5 linked regions of the Homo sapiens genome follow. The protein of the gene in region 3 purifies or fractionates together with the protein of the main gene of each other region. This does not show direct contact. Each region holds a gene or a part of one and is shown on either strand. Other genes may lie near its edges. The genes, in order: NOP14, POC5, LTV1, NAP1L4 and DDX10.

Region 1 (4,725 bases), on a different chromosome or scaffold from region 3:
GGTGGCTCATGCCTGTAATCCCAGCACTTTGGGAGGCTGAGGTGGGTGGATCATGAGGTCAGGAGATCGAGACCATCCTGGCCAACGTGATGAAACCCCGTCTCTACTAAAAATACAAAAATTAGCCAGGCGTGGTGGCGCATGCCTATAATCCCAGCTACTCAGGAGGCTGAGGCAGGAGAATCACTTGAACCAGGGAGTCAGAGGTTGCAGTGAGCCCAGATCACTCTACCGCACTCCAGCCTGGGCAACAGAGCGAGACTCTGTCTGAAGGAAAAAAAAGAATTACCCTCCATGAGTTTCATTTCTGTCTGAATCATGAATCATTGCTTAGTTGACCCAAAATACTCTTTAAGGCTGCTTAGGATTCGTTGTCATATTTCAAATATAATGGAAATATATATATCTACCTTATCTTTTTTTTTTTGCTGTGAAATGGAAGTGGTAATTTTAGGAAACTTTTTTTCTCTTCTGTCAGCGACATCATGAGAAAAAAAGCATCTACAATCTAAATGAAGATGAAGAATTGACTCATTATGGCCAGTCTTTGGCAGACATCGAGAAGCATAATGACATTGTGGACAGTGACAGCGATGCTGAGGATCGAGGAACGTTGTCTGGTGAGGCTGGGGTGCTGTGCACGGGCCTGTGGGCGTGGAGTCAGGGAGAGTCTGTTCATTGTTAGACCTTCTGCTCTTCTTAGAGACTAGAGAAAGTTATTGCATGAAAGTTTTACTGATCATTAACCTCTCTACAAATTTCACAAGTGACAGTTTTTATGTATTTTTGTTTTTTTTTTAAGTTTTCAGAACTTTAAGATGGTGTGTAGATAGATGCTTTTATGGGCCAAGAAAGCATGTTGATATCCATTATTTTATTTGAACCTCAAAATAGCTCGTTCTACCCATGAGCTCAGAGAAATAAGGTGTTTTGCCCGATGCCAGAGTCAGAGCTGTGGGGAGAACCCACCTCACTGACTCCAGGTGCCTCACTGAATGCACTACTTTGCTCCCCCTACTTTATCAATTCCAGCCTAATATTTGTACCAGTGGCATTGATGTAGTTCCTTTAGCTTTTACCTACTGTGGAATTATAGCAGTTTGAGGAAAATCATATTGAGCCTCATATCTGTAGATAACAACATGAAACAGATAAATTTTGGCCTTAAATAATGTTAACAGAGTTTAAGATTCAGTTCGGGTCTGACTGTCTTGAACCCTATTTATAAGGTTGCAGTCATGACATCAATTACTTGACATTTCTTGTAAGTTAAAGTAGGTCCCATTTCCAGCATCTTCAGAACAAAGGTGTACAAATCTAAAACTGACTCTCAAAGCTTTGTCTTGTCAGTGTGTGAAAGTTAAGGCGTTAAAGCCTGGGGCTGCCTTCTGATATTTGGCTAATCCAGGGGGTAAAAGGCTTAGGAATTAGGGCAGCAAGCATGTGGTGCAGAACCCGCCATCTGCGGCACACCAGGAGGCCCCGCCACTGCTCGGCTTCACGGGCGTGAAGAGAATGGCCAGTTATTTTAACCCCTCTGTGCCTTTGTCTTTGCTCTTTTCATTGTTCAAGACTTCTCGTGGACCCTTAGCTATAAAACGCATTCCCTGGGGAGATCCTAATTCCCCGAGACTGGAGGTAACTGCCTTGGTGTGAGTTGGGCGAGTGGCCTTCCCCTCATTGCCAGGAGGCGCTGTGGCGCAGGTGACTAGAGGGGGCGCCGTGGCGTGCAGGTGACTAGAGGGGGCGCCGTGGCGTGCAGGTGACTAGAGGGGGCGCTGTGGTGCAGGTGACTAGAGGGGGCGCCGTGGCGTGCAGGTGACTAGAGGGGGCGCTGTGGTGCAGGTGACTAGAGGGCGCCGTGGTGCAGGTGACTAGAGGGGGCGCCGTGGCGTGCAGGTGACTAGAGGGGGCGCCGTGGTCCAGGTGACTAGAGGGGGCGCCGTGGCGTGCAGGTGACTAGAGGGGGCGCCGTGGCGTGCAGGTGACTAGAGGGGGCGCTGTGGTGCAGGTGACTAGAGGGCGCCGTGGTGCAGGTGACTAGAGGGGGCGCTGTGGCGTGCAGGTGACTAGAGGGGGCGCCGTGGTCCAGGTGACTAGAGGGGGCGCCGTGGCGTGCAGGTGACTAGAGGGGGCGCCGTGGGGTGCAGGTGACTAGAGGGGGCGCTGTGGCGCAGGTGACTAGAGGGGGCGCCGTGGCGCAGGTGACTAGAGGGAGCGCCGTGGCGTGCAGGTGACTAGAGGGGGCGCCGTGGCGTGGAGGTGACTAGAGGGGGCGCCGTGGCGTGCAGGTGACTAGAGGGGGCGCCGTGGTACAGGTGACTAGAGTCTCCAGGCCCTGCCCAGGGAGGTGGGAGGGACACAGATTGCACCACTGATCCTGGGCGACGCTCCCACCAAGACCCTGGAGTCAGCTTGCTCTGGGTTTGCCAGTCTTCGCTAGAACCAGCACAATCAAAAATAGGTGCTGGGTGTTTCCAGCCACTTGGGTTACGGCCAGTTGGGAGTGTAATGGGTCTGGGTTTTCTCAGAGTGGCTTACCTTGGGTATTTCTCAAGTGCCATTGTGCCTGTGGTCTCAGGCCAGGCTGTTGCGTGTGAGCATTTTTTTCTCAAATGTGGACTTTTCCAGACCACTATGGGGGAAGCACTGGCAGAGTGCTACAGGAAACACTTCCCACGCCAGGGCTGGGCTTCACTGTGGGGTTTTCTGCCTTTTGCCCCCAGCTGAGCTGACTGCTGCCCACTTTGGAGGAGGCGGTGGGCTCCTTCACAAGAAGACTCAACAGGAAGGCGAGGAGCGGGAGAAACCGAAGTCCCGGAAAGAGCTGATTGAAGAGCTCATTGCCAAGTCAAAACAAGAGAAGGTGGGTTAGTGAGTGTTCTTGATCATCTTCTCCACGGTAAGACAGGCTCACCAAAATGTGTTTGAGCTTTTTTTTCCTGTACCTTTTTAGGCTGTGTTTAATATTTTATATGAGTTCAGTAAAAGCATTTATTGTGAGTAGGAATTTTAAAAATCACATAAAGCATATACCTCGGACAGGTTTTGGTTCTTTTGCCTTTTTTTGGTTTATGTTTTGTTTTATTTTGAGACGTAGTCTCTGTTTCCCGGGCTGGAGTACAGTGGCACGATCAAAGCTCACTGTGGCCTCAAACTCCTGGGCTCAAGGATCCAGTGATCCTCCCACCTCAGCTCCCCAAGTAGCTAGTGGGCGCCACCATGCTCAGCTAATTACTTTTTGTAGAGATGGGGATCGTGCTGTGTCGACCAGGCTCAAGCAGTTCTCCCACCTTGGCCTAGTTCTAAAGCACAGGGTGGGCCACTGCACCTGGCGCGGATGGGTTTTTTGTTGTTGCTGGTTTTAGTATCTGACATGTGCCCAAAAAATCACTTTTTTATTCATTTGCAGTGAACTGCTCAGAGCATCTAAATTAATGGTTTATGGCAGGAAAAGATTTCCGTCTGATGAGATTTGGTAGCTTTGCATTTAAAATACTCATTTCTCCTGGCCTCTTTTCTGTGTTGAAACGTTTGGTGCCAACTGAGTGATCACTGTGTGTGTCCTTGGCACTGACATTGGGCCTCTGGGTTGAAGTCCAGTAGTAACGGTATGTGGTGTGTGTCTGTTATTTTTTCCCCAGAGGGAGAGACAAGCTCAACGAGAAGATGCCCTCGAGCTCACGGAGAAGCTAGACCAAGACTGGAAAGAAATTCAGACTCTCCTGTCCCACAAAACTCCCAAGTCAGAGAACAGAGACAAAAAGGAAAAACCCAAGGTGGGAGCCAAGTACTGAAACAAACTCTTCACTCACTGAGCTTGGGTGACCGACTTTCTCCAGAGAAAGGGCTGGGGCTGGACGGCTCTTCTACCTGTCTCCTTTAGGGCAAGTTTCTGTTGAACATTGATACTGAATTACCTGCTGTGTGTAATCTTGGGGTGGAAGTAGATTCAGTTACTTGAGTCTCTATTGCAGGTGAATTAAACTGAAAAAAGTGGTGTTTCTGGATGGAAGAAGTACTTCAGGGTGGACACGTTAGAATAGGTGTCTGAACTTCCCTGTGACATGTTTGTCTGTTGATACATAATACATACATTTAATATACATTTACTTATTTTTGCCTCTGTAAACAGTTGTTTCCTACTGCATTCTCTTTAGTCGAAACTATTGGAAAATGCTGCATTTGTTTAAGAAACTGCGTTCTCAGAGAAGTCTAGATCCCAGCAGATTAGTGTCATGTGGTCATCTGTGCATCTTTGTCAGTCAGCCTTGATGTTACCGTTACTTTACTTAGTTTCCCACGTTTAGGGCGTAATGCCTGGATAAGTAGCGTTTTTGTTGTTGTTTGAGACGGAGTCTCGCTCTGTCACCCAGGCTGGAGTGTAGTGCAACCTCCACCTCACTGCAACCTCCACCTCCTGGGTTCAAGTGATTCTCTTGCCTCAGCCTCCCGGGTAGCTGGGATTACAGGCGCGTGCCACCATGCTTGACTAATTTTTGTATTTTTAGTAAAGACAGGGTTTCACCATGTTGGGCCAGGCTGATCTCAAACTCCTGACCTCACGTGATCTGCCCACCTTGGCCTCCCAAAGTGCTGGGATTACAGGCGTGAGCCACTGCACCTGGCCTGTTTTCGTTAAAGCAGATGTATTCTGAGAATTTTTCTAGGGGTAAACAAATTCTTTGTGACCGAATGTCCACTGATTTCGCAATCCTCAGGGCT
Region 2 (4,725 bases), on a different chromosome or scaffold from region 3:
CATACCACCATGCTTGGGTTTAAGCATCTCAAATTCTATCTGTGATGGATGTGTTTTCATTAATGAAGGCTTTCTTCATTTTATTGATAAACACAGAAAACATCTTTTATTTCACTTTCCTTTAGCTTCTTAAGAATTCGAGGGTAAGATTCAAGTCTGTGCTAATTTTTTGCCTCCTGACACAGTACCTGGAGCAAAGCAGATGGGCAACAAATCTGTGCCCGGCTATAAATGGATGTCCGGAGGGGCATCCACTTATGGATAGGAGAGTGGTGTTGTTCAGAAGAGGAGGACTTGGGCAGACACCTCAGCTGCTTGTCTGCAGAAGTAGCACTTAAGTGTTTTCATGAATTAAAGATTATAATTTTTTTAAACATACCTTGATTTCGTATAAAATTGAACATTTTATAGAATTTTTTTTGAAACAATGGATTTTAATGTCAGTCATTTTCTTTGTTATACTCAAAATTCTGTCCCATGGTTTTTAAGTTTAATTTTTTTATTTTGAAGTATCACAAAGAATATAGATATCATATGTTCAGTTTATGAGAATGAGTAAAGTGGATAGACAGGTACTACGATTCAGCTTAACACATAGAATATTTCCAGTAGCTTAGAATGTATGCCCTTTTCCTCTCTGGAAATTATTTAAAGAGCAGTTATAAATATCTCTTGGTAAATGTGCCCAATTTACAAAATCTCTTTCTAATGTGACTATTTTTAGAAATTTATTTCAGTTATTCAGTTCTTTTATAAGAGAGAATATTATCTTAGGATTTTAAAGCCTTCTGAATTTTTTTTTAAGAACAAGAGTAATAATATCACTGAAGAAGTACATCAACATATAACATTAATAACATTAGTTATATATAATGTTATTAATATGTTATATGTATAACATTAATTATATATATTTACTTATATATATAACATTTTATGTATGACATATGTTATATATGTTATTAATAGTTATATGTATAACATGTTATTAATAGGTATATATAACATATATAATATATAGTTATATATATAACTATAACATATTAATAGTTACATATATAACTATTATTTGCTTTTATAGGTTTGTTTAATCCAGAAAATCATTGGACAGTCGTTGAGGAACTTCTATATCCAAGATAGTAGTAGGGACCAGAAAGATATTTAAATATCTAAATATTCTGGCCCCTGCCCTCAAATCTAGTGAATAAAGACATGGTGTATATAGGAGAACTTTCAAATGTATAATTGTTTTACCTGAATTGAATGTCAGTAGCTAATTTGCATATACATAAACTTTTTATTGGTGATTACCATATACACATAATGAAGACTTCCTTCTTCTTTTGTTCCCTTTCATTAGTTGATATCTAGTATATTCATGTGAGAAAGTTTTACCATCTTTTTAAAGATAATAATGAGGTTAACTGAATGAATATAGTAGTGATCCATACCTATCCTCTCTAGCATTTTTTGATATATGAGAAAATCACTTTACCAATTGCTGTTATTTTAATATCACAATAATTGGGTTAATTGCTGTTTACAGGTGATTTCTAGCTTGTCTCATGCCATAGGCAAGCAAAAGGAAAAGATAGAGTTGATGAGAACATTCTTCCACTGGCGAATCGGCCATGTCAGAGCCAGACAGGATGTAAGTGTCAAAGCAGAAGACAGCTGATGGATGTTAGACTTCTGAATTCAGAAGTGCTCAGGATCACTTATTATAGTTGTTTTCTAATAAGTCAAAATGAATTTGTGATTTAATGTTCCTCTTATTTCAAAGGAATTTGATTTTGATGTAGTTTGGAAAAAATACAGTTTAGATCTTATTGACATATAATATATATATATTACAATAGATACATCATTTCCTGCTTCATAGTAGGTTAATAAGGATTGTTCCTAAATTGTAAAGGCCCTGGTAATAGAACCCCCTCAGATGTGGTTATTGGAGAAAGAAGTTATGTTTAACATATCAAATGCTTCCTATATTGTTTCTACTTTTAAAATGCCTGAATACAACTTATTCATAAAGAGGCTTTACTATATTTATACATTAAATCACAGTATAAATGTTTGTTATGTAGACTTGCCTTAGAGTGAGAGTCAGAGAAAGCCATACCTGTACAGCTTTTTAAAAGTTATCCTTAGCTTGTAGTATATCATTTAAACTTGAACATCTTTTATTTTAAGTAAGAGCTGAGTTGGTATATCAGTAAATAGTGAACTGAAAGAGAATACTAAATTGTTGTATCAAAAGTGGAAAAGTATGAGTATATCCCACAACAAGACATAGTTTAGAGACACATGAATATAGGAGATGAATATATATATATATGCTTTCCATGTATATTCATGTGAGCTATGGAATAATCTCTGTGTATTTAGTTTCCAAGAGATTAGTATTTAAGGAAAAAGCTAGTACAGGTTGAGTATCCCTTATCCAAAATGTTTGGCACCAGGAGAATTTTGGATTTTAGATTATGTTTCATATCACACCTTATGCACAAAATTCATTTATGTTTCATATTTCACCTTATACATATAGCCTAAGGTAATTGTATACAATATTTTTAATAATTTTATGCATGAAACAAAGTTTGTGTTAAGTACTTCTGTGTGGAATTTTTCACTTGTGGTGTCATGCTGACACTCAAAAAGTTTCAGATTTTTGGATTAGAGATGCTCAACCTACTTTATCCTGGAATAAGATTTCTCCTTTAAGAATACTTTCTGGATTTTTCATTTTTTTAATTAATCCCAGTAGATTAAATCCACATTAAGTAAGCTGGTTAAAATGAATATTTATACTCTACTTTGAAACTTGTCAAGTGAAATAATGAGAATACATATTTATTTTTAAATGTTAGCCAGAATAGTTGAGGCTACTGTCACTTTTGGATAGTTTTTCAAACTGAAGAAATTGAGAATTGGAACTACTTCTTCAAAAGAATTTAAATTCATTGATAAAAGAAAAATAGCATAAGTTTTTATTTGGATTGGCACCATATATGATGGCAGGGTTTATAAATTAAATCTTGCTTGTGGTGGCCATCAAACTGAAGAGAAAGCAGTGTCATCTGAAGCCACAGCCACCACCATTTCCTGCCTTCTAGCCACTCTGTTATTCTCCTGGTCCTGCTAAATTCATAACTAAGATGGCAAGTGGTGATTTGCTCATTTTCTTTCATTTGGTTGTATTCTTTTTCTCTAACTTGATTAGTTGCATAAAGCAATGATGTAATGGATAAGAGCTCAGTCTCTGGAGTCAGGCAAGTCTGGCTTTACTCATCTACTTATGTGAACTACGTAGCTTGCTTAACCTCTCTAAGCCTGTTCTCCTATATGCAAGATGAGAATAATATGATTACATAGAATTAAATAATGTGTATATGTACACTTACCACCATGTTATGTTTATTATTACTACCAATATATTTATCAATCAACTGTGTTTTTGAAGTTATATTTTACTTTTATTTAGGTTTATGAAGGTAAACTAGCTGACCAGTACTACCAGAGAACTTTACTGAAGAAAGTCTGGAAAGTCTGGCGTTCCGTAGTGCAAAAGCAGTGGAAAGATGTGGTAGAAAGAGCTTGTCAAGCAAGAGCTGAAGAAGTTTGTATCCAGATTTCCAATGATTATGAAGCCAAAGTTGCTATGGTAAGCATCTTTTTCTGGTTTTCACTTTCTTCTAATACAATAAAAAGATAGATAGACTCACTATTAATTAATAGACTTCTTCTTTTGGTCTTTAATCAAGAATGCAGACAAAAAAATGAAAACGTTTATTCTTGTGTTAATTTAATGTTTATTGTATATTCTTACATGGTTGATATAAGGAGTTGTATAGAAATTGAAATTATTAGTTGGGCGCGGTGCCTCACTCCTGTAGACCCAGCACTTTGGGAGGCCGAGGCGGGCAGATCACCTGAGTCAGGAGTTTGAGACCAGCCTGGTCAACATGGTGAAACCCCGTCTCTACTAAAAAAATTAGCTGGGTATGGTGGCACATGCCTATAATACCCGCTACTCGGGAGGCTGAGGCAGGATAATCTTTTGAACCTGGGAGGCAGAAGTTGCAGTGAGCTATATCACACTGTTGCACTCCAACCTAGGCAACAAGAGCAGAAATCCATCTCAAAAAAGAAAAAAAGAAATTGAAATTATTTTTTCCCATTGACTTTTAATAATAAAATTAACATTGTTTTCATGGGAAAACATTTGGAATTGAAATGAAATAAAATCCATTCTAAAGAATGCAATAGGCCTCTTGAAGTTAAATATTAAAATGAAAAAATAACTCATTACAGCATTAAATTGTTAAGATTAAAAATAAATCCATAATACAAATAATTTTCTGCAGTTCACTACGACATGCAAAAAATGCAGTCCCCTGAGGTTTGGCCTATGGGAAAGTGTGTTGTACCTAGGGTCACTCTGCACTTCAAATACTGAAGGTAACATTTACATTATAAAAATTCTGTTAATATTGCAGGCATGTAGTTTATTTTATTTTTTTCTGAAAGGGCTGTCTGTGGCTCTTAATGTATTTTGTTTAACATCCTACATAAAAGTTTTACAGTAAAAAATGGTGTATCTTTTTGTGAAATGAAAATACATCAGCAATATTCAATGGGACTGGATAAAATTCCCCTTGTTTGAACCTTGATTTTAAGGTTAGGAATGAAAGCATTTTGTTGATGGAGATAATAGAGGTAAGA
Region 3 (4,725 bases):
AAAACCACATGATTATCTCAATAGATGCAGAAAAGGCCTTTGATAAAATTCAACACCCCTTCATGCTAAAAACTCTCAATAAACTAGGTATTGATGGAACATATCTCAAAATAATAAGAGCTATTTATGACAAACCCTCAGCCAATATCATACTGAATGGGCAAAAGCTGGAAGCATTCCCTTTGAAAACCGGCACAAGACAAGGATGCCCTCTCTCACCAATCCTATTCAACACAGTATTGGAAGTTCTGGCCAGGGCAATCAGGCAAGAGAAAGAAATAAAGCGTATTCCAATAGGAAGAGAGGAAGTCAAATTGTCTCTGTTTGCAGATTAACATCACTGTCTATTTAGAAAACCCCATCATCTCAGCCCAAAATCTCCTTAAGCTGATAAGCAACTTCAGCAAAGTCTCAGGATACAAAATCAATGTGCAAAAATCACAAGCATTCCTATATACCAATAATAGACAAACAGAGAGCCAAATTGTGAGGGAACTCCCATTCACAATTGCTACAAAGAGAATAAAATACCTAGGAATCCAACTTACAAGGGATGTGAAGGACCTCTTCAAGGAGAACTACAAACCACTGCTCAAAGAAATCAGAGGGGACACAAACAAATGGAAAAACATTCCATGCTCATGGATAGGAAGAATCAATATCATAAAAATGGCCATACTGCCCAAAGTAATTTACAAGATAATCCTAAGCAGAAAGAACAAAGCTGGAGGCATCACACTACCTGACTTCAAACTATACTACATGGCTACAGTAATCAAAACAGCATGGTACTGGTACCAAAACAGATATATAGACCAATGGAACAAAACAGAGGCCTCAGAAATAACACCACACATCTACAGCCATCTGATCTTTGACAATCCTAACAAAAACAAGCAATGGGGAAAGGATTCCGTATTTAATAAATGGCATTGGGAAAACTGGCTAGCCATATGCAGAAAACTGAAATTGGACCCCTTCTTTACACCTTATACAAAAATTAACTCAAGATGGATTAAAGACTTCAACGTAAGACCTAAAACCATAAAAACTCTAGAAGAAAACCTAAGCAATACCATTCAGGATATAGGCATGGGCAAAGACTTCTTGACTAAAACATCAAAAGCAATGTCAACAAAAGCCAAAATTGACAAATGGGATCTAATTAAATTAAAGAGCTTCTGCAGAGCAAAAGAAACTATCATCAGAGTCAACAGGCAACCCACACAATGGGAGAAAATTTTTGCAATCAATCCATCTGACAAAGGGCTAATATCCAGAATCTACAAAGAACTTAAATTTACAAGAAAAAAACAAACAACCCCATTGAAAAGTGGGCAAAAGATAGGAACAGATATTTCTCAAATGAAGACATTTATGCAGCCAACAAACATGAAAAAAAGCTCATCATCACTGGTCATTATAGAAATGCAAATTAAAACCACAATGAGAAACTATCTCACGCCAGTTAGAATGGCAATCATTAAAAAGTCAGGAAACAACAGATTCTGGAGAGGATGTGGAGAAATAGGAACGCTTTTATGTTGTTGTTGGGAGTGTAAATTAGTTCAACCATTGTGGAAGACAGTGTGGCGATTCCTCAAGGATCTAGAACCAGAAATACCATTTGACCCAGCAATCCCATTACTGGGTACATACCCAAAGGATAATAAATCATTCTACTATAAAGACACATGCACACGTAGGTTTATTGTAGCACTGTTCACAATAGCAAAGACTTGGAACCAACTTAAATGCCCATCAATGACAGACTGGATAAAGAAAATGTGGCACATATACACCATGGAATACTATGCAGCCATAAAAAAGGACACGTTCATGTCCTCTGCAGGGACATGGATGAAGCTGGAAACCATCACTCTCAGCAAACTAACACAGGAACAGAAAACCAAACACCGCATGTTCTCACTCATAAGTGGGAGTTGAACAATGAGAACATATGGACACAGGGAGGGGAACATCACACACTGGGGCCTGTTGGGGGATGGGGGCCTAGGGGAGGGATAGCATTAGGAGAAATGCCTAATGTAGATGATGGGTTGATGGGTGCAGCAAACCACCATGACGTGTATACCTACATAACAAACCTGCACATTCTGCATATATATCCCAGGACTTAAAGTATAATTTAAAAAAAAAAATGAAAAAAGAAATGATGCTTCTCCTTTTAATATCCACTGGTGAAAATAATGTTCCATTAAACATCTATAATGTTTAACTTTGTCTAGCATAATTCAAAGCTTTTGTCTGCAAGAAGAAACTGGCCTTTAAATTCACCTGTTAAAAATAACTCGAACAATTTTTAGACTGTTATACTTTCAGTATTTTCTGACTTTGCGATTTTAATAAATACCTACCTGTTTCTTCAGATATGTTCTTCCATCTATAAATATACTAGGCTGACTCTGGGCACACTGCTTAGGACTTAGCCCTGCTCCACAAGGAGCAGAAAATGAAAACAAAAAACTCAAGTTCATGAAAAACTTTCAACTCCAAATTTATCATCTGACATGGCCTCCAACACCCTCTGCTACATGGCCATTACTTAACCCTCCAGCCTCATTTCTTTTTAATCCATACCCTTCCTTCTGGGCAGGCTAAAATGTGTATAGTTACCTATATTCACGTTCTCTTGCCTTAGGACATACAGTCCTCTGTCTGGAACATCCTCTGGTCCCCACCCCTCCCCCTCCTTCTTCCACCTACCTAACTTTTACTTAAGAAACAAACTAGATATCACCTTCTTTAGAAAGCCTTGCCCAACCCTGTGATGCTGGGTTTGGTGCTACTCACCCCACTATTAATATCCATCTATACTGTAATTTATCATTTATTGTTTATTTTTCCCAAATGAGGTAAATTCTTGGGTCAGAGACTATGCTTTATTCTGTTTTAACCCAAGGCCCTGCCACACAGACAGTGGCAACTCAAAAATCTGTACAATAAATTAATTAATGAATGCCACAGGACAGGTGTTAGTTAATAATTAAGGCAACTTGGGAGAAAATACCAACACCACTTCTGTAGACTTTTGTGTTTGTTCTGAAATACAGTGTTGGTACTACAAATTAAAAATAAAAAATTTCCCCCAATATATGTGTAGATGGCAAAATGAACTTCCATAAAAATACCTGTATGCTCTGGGGAGAAATTCTGAAAAACAGATTATTTTTCAAAATTACACTACAAGTAATGAATAATTAATACCACTATCTTTGCAAGAGGTTATGTGAAGGTTACAATTCCCCTAACTAGATTACCAAGAATAGTTTCCCCACTTTCCTCTCCAAACAGGAACTCAAAAGATATAAAGATTTGATGGTAGGAATACAAAAATACAAAGATCACATTCATCCCTTCCTAATAATCCCTGATCTGAATTCCAGACATATCTCAATTGTTTCAATACTTTACTGGGGATAGAAAAATCCTACATCATTTCTTTATGTTTTGCAAAATACATTTATCCATATGAAAAGATAAAGCAATTAAAAATACCTGAAACTGGAGCTGCTTTATTTAACAATCCAACATCTTCCTCAAACTCTGAAGCAAACACTGATGAAGGCAACTTAATTCCAGTGCTCTTGAAAAAGAAATTGCACAATGGTTAGGTTTATTTGGAAATTCTTCTTAACTAGTGTACCGGGTTGAAGTCCCCCCCAAATCAATGTCCATCCAGAACCTTAGACTGACCATATTTGAAATAGGGTCCTCTCAACTATAATAAGATGAGGTCTTACTGGACCATGGTCCTATAACGAGACCACATGAAGACAGAGACTCACAGGGGAGAATGCCATGTGCAGATGACAGCAGACTGGAGTGAGGCCTCTATAAGGCAAGGAATTCCAAGGAATGATCACCGGTAACCTTCGGAAGTTAGGAATGAGCCATTCAACAGCCTCTCCCTCTAAGCCCCCAAGAAAAAAACCAAACCTGCTGATACCTTCATCTCAAACTTCTGACCTCCAGAACCATGAAGGAAGAAATTTCTGTTGTTTTAAGTCACCTAGTTTGTGGTAATTTGTTACTGCAGTCCTAGGAAACTATTACAACTACATTCTGTGTTCTCTCACCTGTGCTCCAGGTTGTATATATGTTAAACATGTATATTCCATCATAAACCCAAAAGTAACTCTCTATAATACATCACAATGCCTTCTCTAGCAAATTATTCCATTTATCCCTCAGATCCCATGAGGTATCACCATGTTTTACCAAAAGAACAAAAACTAGGAAAGTTTAAATGGCCCACCTGCCTGAGAATGATCAGTAAGTGAGATTCTGGGATTCAAATCCCAGAGTTTCTTAACTCCACTTGCCTGAAATTTCAAACCAAAATTAAACATTTTCCTCTTAAACTAGAGATAATGTCCTAATCTCTAGTAATGGCACAGCCCTTGTATGAATTGGCAATCTTAAATCCTCGGGTGGTTATAAATCATTTTGCTCTGTCCTATGTCCCCTTGAAATCTCTTACATACAGTGATTTCACTCTATTCTTTGGGGCATCACCTCATTTATAGTTAACCAAAACATAAATGACTGCAACCGCTCATATAGCTAGTCTATATCTACTACAACCTTCATACCCATGGCGAGATTAAGCTCCTTTAATAGTTTTTCATGTGACCTTCTTGAGTTTCTGACAGGTCTCAATTTTTCACTCTGTATTTAAGGCCCTGGTTCTCAAGGACCTAT
Region 4 (4,725 bases), on a different chromosome or scaffold from region 3:
CCAGGTTTGGCATAGAGCTGTGGTTTGCTTCCTGCATGCATTTGTAATGGATTTTTCTCATGGATTGTGTGTTCCTGACAGCTGTCTTGTCCTGGTAGGTGTACTATTGACTGGAAGAAAGGAAAGAATGTTACTGTCAAAACCATCAAGAAAAAGCAGAAGCATAAGGGTCGAGGCACTGTTAGAACAATTACGAAACAAGTACCCAATGAGTCCTTTTTCAACTTCTTCAATCCATTGAAAGGCAAGTCTGTTGGTTGTTAATATTCATTATGTTCTTATATAAAATAATTTTGGTCACCTGATAGATTCCTAACACCCAGAGACTTTAGTCCTCTTTTTTCAGGCAAGTGTGGTCAGTAGGGGCACATTGCTGTGTCCCAGGCTGTTCTGTTGGTGCGCTGGCAAGTTTATCGCGGGGGGCAGAGGTAGCTAGGACAGTAAGAGTAGGATTGTCATCTTCTGCAGGAAAGGGAAGAGCTTTACTCTGCTTGGCTGTAGCCCAGGCAAAAACTTGCAGTTCTGTTTTAAGAAAACTGAATCGAGTATTTGCACCTGGGCTGCTTCCTCACTTGGACACCTGGAGCACCCTTCTCCACCAGCTGGCATTTCTGCCCCGCTGTTGTGTCTGGTTCGCACCCCCCGGGGACCACTCCCAGCCTCGGAGAGCTGCTGGGTTTGCTCTGCAGGTACCCGTTACTGCTGTACGCTGGTTCTAGTTGTGCTGCTTTTGGATCATCTGCTTAGTCCCCCTTTTCTTGTAATTTTTTATGCATAATTTGATAGAATTTTTTGGAATTTATATATTGTAAGAAACACAAGTAGTTGGGACTTTCATTTTTGAAAAACATCGGCAGAATCACAGCTTGGAAGCTGCTTCTTTTTGTTTATTTATTTATTTTTTAAATTTTCCTAAGTGGTAAAATAAAGATGAGACCTTTGAGCTAGTAAAGGTTGACCAATTGATTTTAAGAGTAAATTTCTTGGGATTTTTCATATAATTTCCTAATCGCGAGAAAATGTGAAGGTCAAGCAACTTGTCAGTGTTAAAATATCCATATTCTCTTTAGTTTCCATGAACTAAAACATAATTTGAAGTGAAGAGATGCCAGCCCCTGCTGCAGATAATCAGTGAGTGTTTGTTTGTATGTGGGGCCACAGGGCGGATCTCTTCTCCAGTCTGAGTGATTGATTTTTTGATTTTGTCTCTGAGCTTAGCACCCTTATTTATCAAGCTGCCCTTCAGAGTTCAGTCCATTATTTTAATTGTGGTGCCTATTTTCTGCAATTAGACTTTGAACCTAGAAGATGCAAATACATACGGTTTGGGGAATGAGAGCAGTCATAAATTTAGATATTACATTTCCTTTTTTTGGAAGATTCCTTTTAGACACTTGGGTTGGGCATACTGGAGATTGTCTGTGAATTCAGCGTGAAGAAGGGAGGCTTTAATTTCTGGAATCACTTTGTGTAGGAAGTTCTCTTAAAACTGATTTAAAAATAATTTTTAGGATAAAAATGGAGTTGATAATGGACTCAAGGGAATTTTTAAGTGTTTTTTTTTTTAGATTCTAAAACTTTTAGGGTATGATGGTTGCACAACTCTAAAATTAACGTACTGAAAGTCATAAAGTTGTACATTTAGAGTGTATGCCTTTTAATGGTATGTAAATCCCATCAGTAAAGCCACTTTTAAAGTAATCAAACACATAATACCAAATGGTAAGTGCTTTGAAAAAAATTGAGGATGGCTGCGGAATAGGTAATGGGGTAGTGAAGGAACAGACAAAATGGACTCCTGTGGTGTGAAGTGAAGGAGGCATTAGCTAGTGAGTCCAGCTCCTTTGTCCTTAAAACTGCAAAGCCAGTCCAGAAGTATGAGTGTTCAGAGTCCTTGTACTATTCATGACTTGGGCCAGAGTGCCCTGGGGAGCATGCTGCTCCAGCATTTAGACACCCAGCCATGCTCCTAACCCATGTCTAAAACCCCTGGGTGATGCTGGCACACCGAGGCTTGGGAACTCTGCCTCACTCATGGGTGGTGTTTACGCACCCAACATTCATGTCTCAGCAGCAAACAGCAAGTGCTGCCAGGGTTGTGGTCGCTTAATGGGAAGGGAGACTCAGAGAGGAGAGCCCAGTGAAGATTGAAAAGGCAGGTATGAGACTAAGCAGAGTAAACATTCAACTCCTGATGAAGCTCAGGGTCTTGTAGTAAATGTTTCTAAAATCAGGGGGTTGGATCTTCTACCAGTTGAACGTTGCACAGCTTCATTGAGTGTGGTTAGAAGTCCCTATCTGTCTTGGTGGGCTTAGCTCGTCTGAGCATCAGCTTTCGCTGAGGAATTGCGCCACTCTACAGGGGCCCCTGGTGGGCATTCCAGCACTCTCCAAACAAACAGAAATGCAGTTTCTGTCTCGCTGATTTGCAGTGCCTTAGTAACACTCACAGCTTATAAGGCTTAAGGACTTTCTCTTTCCTGCACCATCATGTATAGTTCTGCGGGACATGAGTTAAGTTTCCCCATAAAGCACAAATGCACTGAATGGCCACAGCCTGGGGGCTGTTTGCCATTCCTCCTGTTAATATATTAACTCTCTCAAAATGATCTTCTCAAGCTTGAGTGCCAGCCCATGGCACATGATGGAGGAGGAGAAGGGAGGGGGGCATAGAGGCACTCAGGCCAGCTTCAGAAGTGGTGGATGGAGCTTGCAAAGATGTCTGTGAGGAGATGCAAGGCTTTGGGGATTTCTGTTAAACCTCGAGGTGAGAAATGTTACATTTTATCTACCAGCACAGCTTCCTCCTGTGTGGGCTTTAAAATTCTGGGAGTTGTCACTGTAATTTAAATATGTTTTGTCTTTTCTTTTTCTAGCATCCGGGGATGGAGAATCACTGGTAAGATTTGTTGTTAATAGTCTTATTTTCCTGTTGAAGTCTCTCCTGAGTGAATGTCTACTTGTCTACTTGTTAAAAAAAGTCCAGTCCTGGCTGTGTGTGGACTGGGTATGCCAGTGATCTTAATGCTTTGGGAGGCTGAGGTGGGAGGACTGCACGAGTCCAGGAGTTTGAGACCAGCCTGGGCAACATAGCACAACCCCATCTCCACAAAAAATTAAAACCAAATAAATTAGCCAGCCGAACATGGTGGTTCACGCCCGTAATACCAGCACTGTGGGAGGCCAAGGTGGGTGGATCACCAGAGGTCAGGAGTTCAAGACCAGTCTGGTCAACATGGTGAAACCCCGTTTCTGCTTAAAATACCAAAAAAAAAAAAAATTAGTTGGACACGGTGGCAGCGCCTGTAATCTCAGCTACTCAGGAGGCTCAAGCAGGAGAATCACTTGAACCCGAGAGGAGGAGGTTGCAGTGAGCTGAGATTGCACCACCGTATTCCATTGGGCGACAGAGCAAGACTCCGTCTCAAAAGATAAAATAATAAATTAGCTGGACATGGTGGTGCACTGTGTAGTTCCAGGGTCGCTGGGGCCCAGGAGCTTGAGGCTGGAGTGAGCTGTGATTGCACCACTGCCCTCCAACCTGGGTGATAGAATAAGACCCTGTCTCTTAAAAAAAAAAAATCCATTTCTGTTTCCTAAAACTCTGGGATTAATTTGAAATCATTACACATCTAAGTAAAAGTATGTGTTTCATATGTTGATTTCAGTAGCAAATGTGCAGTGCTTTAATACTGCCTGTTTCCCATATGTGAGACTGATACCGCCTACTCTGGGTGAGACCTTTGGACAAGTTGTGGAGCTGTAGGGCCCTCACTTCCCACTTTCTCTGCCATTTTGCTTCAGTAGCTCTTTAAAGCTACTTAAAGTTGTTTTAAAGGGGCTTTGAGTGTCTAGTGGCTGTCCCCCAGCAGTGCAGGAGTTTGGTGTTTTAAGTTAAGTAAATCAAAAGTGAGGGGCTGAGGTTTGGCTGAGGGTGGTGAAGTGAATGTTTTTATCCCATTAAAATGAGTTAACACGTAGGTTTTTCCTCCTCAGGATGAAGATTCTGAATTCACATTAGCCTCTGATTTTGAAATTGGACACTTTTTCCGTGAGCGGATAGTCCCGCGGGCTGTGCTGTACTTCACTGGGGAGGCCATAGAAGATGATGACAATGTATGAGGCTCGGGGAAGGGGGGCTTCCACCTGGGTGCTTATCTCTGTTGGTGCAGAGTGGCCCTGAATTGTGGCTTAGGAAACCCCCATGCCTAATCTTTTTATTACATCATCAGCCAGATATGTAGTCCAAGCTGCTGTCCTTGTTGTGGGGGGAATACGCTTGAAGAGGAGAAGTCTGAGGAACAGAGCAGGAAAAGCAGGTGTCTGTGAAGCAGTTTCAGAGGTGATTGCCAGTTTCCTATGTGAGCCCTGCCTAGTGACTCAACAATATTCTCTCAAAACCTAAGCTTCAGGGAACTTGTGAACACAGGGAATATCTCTTTTATGGAGGTCTGGCCACAACAAACATTTATTGACAGTGGACTTATGCTAGCCTGTGGTTCATCAACCCAAAAGAAATAGAAATTCCTGAACTTCTATCTAATTAGGTAAAAAGGAAAAAAAAGAAACCCGTGCTCCCGAAGAAAACAACAAGATTGCATGTCACTTTCCTTTCTGGGCTTGAGGGAAGCCAGCTCTTCCACAGTCAGAACTTGCGGGTGCACAGCCCAAGTACCGCTTAGAAACTCCCATCCTCACCAAGGCTCAAGCAGCTTCAAGTCTTCT
Region 5 (4,725 bases), on a different chromosome or scaffold from region 3:
AAATTGTATAACAGACAGTCTGACCCAATGACAATGTACTTACTGGAACAAGAAAAGCCAGAGTCTTGCCAGATCCAGTTTTGGCCGCTCCAAGTACATCTTTACCTTGCAAAGCCAATCCAATGGTCTGCTTCTGTATCTCAGTCACCAAACGGTACTGAGCTTCTTGCAAACCTGGCAACATGGAGGGAAGAATTATACTTTAGAAGATCCCTGTAGGATGGTATTATAGGCTAAGTGAGTTGTGTCCCCCAAAATTCCTATGTTGAAGCCCTAATGCCTCGTACCTCAGAACATAACTATACTTGGAGACAGGGCCTTTAAAGAGGTTGATTAAGTTAGAGCCCCATAGGGGTGGACTCTGATCCAACACAAACGGTGTCTTTATGAGAAGAAACTTGAACAAAGAGACACCAAGGGTCCACATGCACAGAGGGAAAACCATGTGAAGAGAGACAAGTTATTCTGTGATCCACCTACTCCACTCCTGGGTATAATCCAAAGGGTTTATTAATAAAACCACTACTTTGAAAAGTATTTGTGCTCACATGTTCATTGCAGCATTATTCACAGAAGCCAAGATATGAAATCAACCTAAGTGTCCATGAATGAGTAAAGAAAATATATGTTATATACATACACATACACACACACACACACACACACACACACACACACACAAATGGAATATGACTCAGCCTTTAAAAAGGAAATCCTGTTATTTACAACAACATGGATGAACCTGGAGGACCTTATGTTAACTGAAATAAACCAGGCACAGCAATAAAGATGCCACATAATCTCACTTATATGTAGAATCTAAAAAAGCCAAATTCAAAGGAGCAGAGGGTAGAATGGTAGTTACCAGAAGCTGGGGGAAGTAAGGAGAGTGGGAAGATGTTCATCAAACATACAAAATTTCAGTTAGAAGGAAGAACTTCAAGAGATCTATTGTAGGCCAGGCGTGGTGGCTCACGCCTATAATCCCAGCACTTTGGGAGGCCAAGGCAGGCAGATTCCTTAAAGTTCAGGAGCTCAAGACTAGCCTGGGCAACATGGCAAAACTCTATCTCTACCAAAAATTTTTAAAAATTAGCCAGGCACAGTGGCATGCACCTGCAGTTCCAACTACTCAGGAGGCTGAGATGGGAGGATCACTTGAGCCCAGAAGGCTGAGGATGCAGTGAGCTAAGATCACACAACTGCACTGCACCCTGGGTGACGGAGCAAGACCCTATCTTAAAAAAAAAAAAGAGAGATCTATTATATATCTCTCTTAATATATACTGCTATAGTTAATTAAAATATACTGAAAAAAGAAAAAATACTAAGTAGATTTTAAGAGTTCTAAACACAAAAGGATGAGGTAATATTAGCACATATACAATTAGTTTGATTTAGCCATTCCACAGCATATACATATTTCAAAGCATCATGTATACACTGTAAATATATACAATTTTTTTTTTTGAGACGGTGTCTCACTCTGTTGCCCAGGCTGGAGTAGAGTGGCATGAACCCGCCTCCCAGGTTCAAGTGATTCCCCTGCCTCAGCCTGTAGCTGGGATTACAGGTGCCCGCCACCACACCCAGCTAATTTTTGTATTTTTAGTAGAGACGGGGTTTCACCATGTTGGCCAGGCTGGTCTCAAACTCCTGACCCTGTGATCCACCCACCTCGGCCTCCCAAAGTACTGGGATTACAGGCATGAGCCACCACACCTGGCCAAATATATACAATTTTTATGTATCCAAAAATAAAAAGGCAGCAAGAGGGCAGCCATCCACAAGCCAAGGAGGCCTGGAACAAATCCTTCCCTTATTTTGCCTTAAGAGGAAACCAATGCCACCAACATCTTGATCCCAGACTTCCAACTTCCAGAACTGTGAGAAAATCAGTCTCTGTTGTTTAAGCCACTCAGTCTGATATTTTGTCATCTCAGCCCTAGCAAACAGATACAAAGGGTGTTGCATCTTGGTTTGTTCCCTTGCTTATTTTAACTAACAAAATTAGATTTCATTTTATTCAGAGGATGCTGGAAACTTGTTTTTCTTTTAATTAGTCCAGAAAGAATGAGAATAACGTACTGTTAAAACTTGAATATTGCTTATTTTCATTGGTTTTCATGATATCAAAATTTGCCAAAATAAGATTTTTCAGGCTAAACCCTCTAAATCTTCTCCCATTTATCAAAAATGCCAAGAAATCCAATAACACATCCCAAGATCACCATATACTTACCTTTCAATGTTTTTTTGGACAAGGGAAAATCTGAAAATCTTGTGATTTCATTTACATTTATCTGGAAAAAAAGAAAAAGGAATCAGGGTAACTCATTTGTTTCACGACACAGCCATTTCTTCTCTACATTGTATTGCCCAGCTCATCCTTGGTAATTCAGGGTTGAATTCAATCATCGCTTCTAATTAAAAGCCATCATTCCTTCTGTAACGAAATATGCCCTGAAGAGGCTGTCCCTGAATCGAATATACATTTGTAAGCATTTCAATTGGTAAGGAAAAAAAAGTCACCCAATACACACACACCACACATACTACTATCTGACCTCCAAAATGTTGAACACAGTAAAGCATCACCAACCACATCAATTTTAGGAAGAAAATTTACTTCCTATCATCCTTCAAGGGATCTCAATTTAAGAAACAAGGACAAAATTACCACAAACCACAGATCACAATGAAAATAGTTCTATACACACAATTTGGAAAAAAGAGTGAAATTAGTTGGAGAAATATTTCTTGTTAGCACAATCCTTTCAAAGTTTTAACCATAAATCAGTGGCCTATGAAATCCAACCTGATAACTATTCATTTTGGGGTTACTGAAGGAGGAGTATTATTTCAACACAGGGGAAATGTCTGTCATGCTTTGAAGCCACAATAAGTAACATTTTGCTAACTTTACATTATTCAAATATTCATTACTGATGTTCTTTATTAGCACAAACCCAATTTTCTGAATTTCATTTCAGCTGCTCAGGAGAATTATTTTATTACAGATGCTGAAGGCAGGAACTACTGCTCAGTTCTGGAAATATGCTGCCAAATTATACATGATTCGCAAAAGGAAAAAGCTGCATTTGTATGGTTCATTTATTTAAATTACACTCTAGGCAGTAAAAGGATGACAGTTGTACTTCATTTTACAATCTACACATCTTTCCTATGATTCTTAACATTGCCCAGGCAGTGTTTACTCTGTGCCCTCCAATGCTGAAAATACAAATATTAAAACATTGTCTTAATCCCTACAAATCATTTCAGATATCACTGGAAAGGAGGCAGAATCAGTGTACCAGCATTAGAAGAACGGTTTATTCAAATAACATACTGTCCCAGCAAGGAACCTCAATTAGAAGATAATCTTCCAAACAAGGCATTAAAATTAGGTGTAGCTCACTCTAGCACTCGTGGTATTATCAGCTAAAAAGCTGTTTTCAAAGGGAATGGAATGCCTACAGAAGGAGGCAGGCTGCCAACACACTCTTCAATCCCCAGCAAGAGACACAGTACAGGCAAAGCGAGCTCCTCAAACAAAACATTGCACAGCACATCTATCTTCCTAAAGTCAGTTAACCTCCTGGAGGGAAAGTTTAGAAGAATGAAACTGCTCCAACACTCTTCAATCAAGCATTACAACAGAAAACTATATACCATATTCCTTTTTTTTTTTTTTTTTTTTTTTTCCGAGATGGAGTCTCGCTGTGTCGCCCAGGCTGGAGTGCAGTGGCGCGAACTTGGCTCACTGCAAGCTCCACCTCCCGGGTTCACGCCATTCTCCTGCCTCAGCCTCCCAAGTAGCTGGGGCTACAGGCGCCCACCACCACGCCCAGCTAATTTTTTCTGTATTTTTAGTAGAGACGGGGTTTCATCGTGTTAGCCAGGATGGTCTTGATCTCCTGACCTCGTGATCCACCCGCCTCGGCTTCCCAAAGTGCTGGGATTACAGGCGCCATATTCTTTAAAAGAAGACGAAGAAAAGGAACTTTTGATTCTGTTGATGTTCTAAAATAGGGCCCAGCAAACTACAGCCTACGGGCCAAATCCAATTTGCTGCCTATTTTAGTAAGTAAAGTTTTATTCGAGCACAACTACAATAATTCATTTATTTATTGTCTATGTAGTTGTTGCGGAGACTGTATGGACCATAAAGCCTAACACAGACTATCCAGCCCTTTACAGAAAAAGAGTTTGCTGACCCTGCTCTAGATATTCTGTTATATTCCAAGGATTACATAGCAGCCACAGCAGGAGATGGCTACGGTTCCTACAAAGAAAATAACCCAGCCAGGCACGATGGCTCACGCCTGTAATCCCAACACTTTGGGAGGCCAAGGCAGGCGGATCACCTGGGGTCAGGAGTTCAAGACCAGCCTGGCCAACATGGCGAAACCCTGTCTCTACTAAAATTATAAAAATTAGCCAGATGCAGTGGCGTGCGCCTGTAATCCCAGCTACTTGGGAGGCTGAGGCAGGAGAATCGTTTGAACCCAGGAGGCAGAGGTTGTGGTGAGCAGAGATAGAGCCACTGCACTCCAGCCTGGGCAACAGAGCGAGACTCTACCTCAAAAAAATAACTCTTTCTCCTTCCCTTTATCCCTTTCTTAGGGGGGAAAAATCACTTACATCTCCATAATACTCATACTCAGTCTACAAATCTGTCTCACTATTCTTCTGAATTCAGGGAAGAGATATTTCAGGGAT

What was found.
Region 1: the proteins of LTV1 (region 3) and NOP14 purify together in Homo sapiens (affinity purification with mass spectrometry; one large-scale study listed by BioGRID and IntAct). This does not show direct contact.
Region 2: the proteins of LTV1 (region 3) and POC5 purify together in Homo sapiens (co-immunoprecipitation; one large-scale study listed by IntAct). This does not show direct contact.
Region 4: the proteins of LTV1 (region 3) and NAP1L4 fractionate together in Homo sapiens (co-fractionation; one large-scale study listed by BioGRID). This does not show direct contact.
Region 5: the proteins of LTV1 (region 3) and DDX10 purify together in Homo sapiens (affinity purification with mass spectrometry; one large-scale study listed by BioGRID and IntAct). This does not show direct contact.

The regions. Positions count from the first base shown.
Region 1 is NC_000004.12:2,952,565-2,957,289, reverse strand, and holds part of NOP14 (nucleolar protein 14), read left to right. Parts: intron 1-478; coding exon 479-620; intron 621-2,726; coding exon 2,727-2,866; intron 2,867-3,644; coding exon 3,645-3,779; intron 3,780-4,725. UniProt on the Homo sapiens protein: Involved in nucleolar processing of pre-18S ribosomal RNA. Has a role in the nuclear export of 40S pre-ribosomal subunit to the cytoplasm.
Region 2 is NC_000005.10:75,689,322-75,694,046, reverse strand, and holds part of POC5 (centrosomal protein POC5), read left to right. Parts: intron 1-1,546; coding exon 1,547-1,651; intron 1,652-3,484; coding exon 3,485-3,664; intron 3,665-4,725. UniProt on the Homo sapiens protein: Essential for the assembly of the distal half of centrioles, required for centriole elongation. Acts as a negative regulator of centriole elongation.
Region 3 is NC_000006.12:143,849,013-143,853,737, reverse strand, and holds part of LTV1 (protein LTV1 homolog), read right to left. Parts: intron 3,608-4,725; coding exon 3,520-3,607; intron 1-3,519. UniProt on the Homo sapiens protein: Essential for ribosome biogenesis.
Region 4 is NC_000011.10:2,953,918-2,958,642, reverse strand, and holds part of NAP1L4 (nucleosome assembly protein 1-like 4), read left to right. Parts: intron 1-98; coding exon 99-244; intron 245-2,876; coding exon 2,877-2,899; intron 2,900-3,996; coding exon 3,997-4,116; intron 4,117-4,725. UniProt on the Homo sapiens protein: Acts as a histone chaperone in nucleosome assembly.
Region 5 is NC_000011.10:108,671,045-108,675,769, reverse strand, and holds part of DDX10 (probable ATP-dependent RNA helicase DDX10), read right to left. Parts: intron 2,304-4,725; coding exon 2,243-2,303; intron 175-2,242; coding exon 44-174; intron 1-43. UniProt on the Homo sapiens protein: Putative ATP-dependent RNA helicase that plays various role in innate immunity or inflammation. Plays a role in the enhancement of AIM2-induced inflammasome activation by interacting with AIM2 and stabilizing its protein level.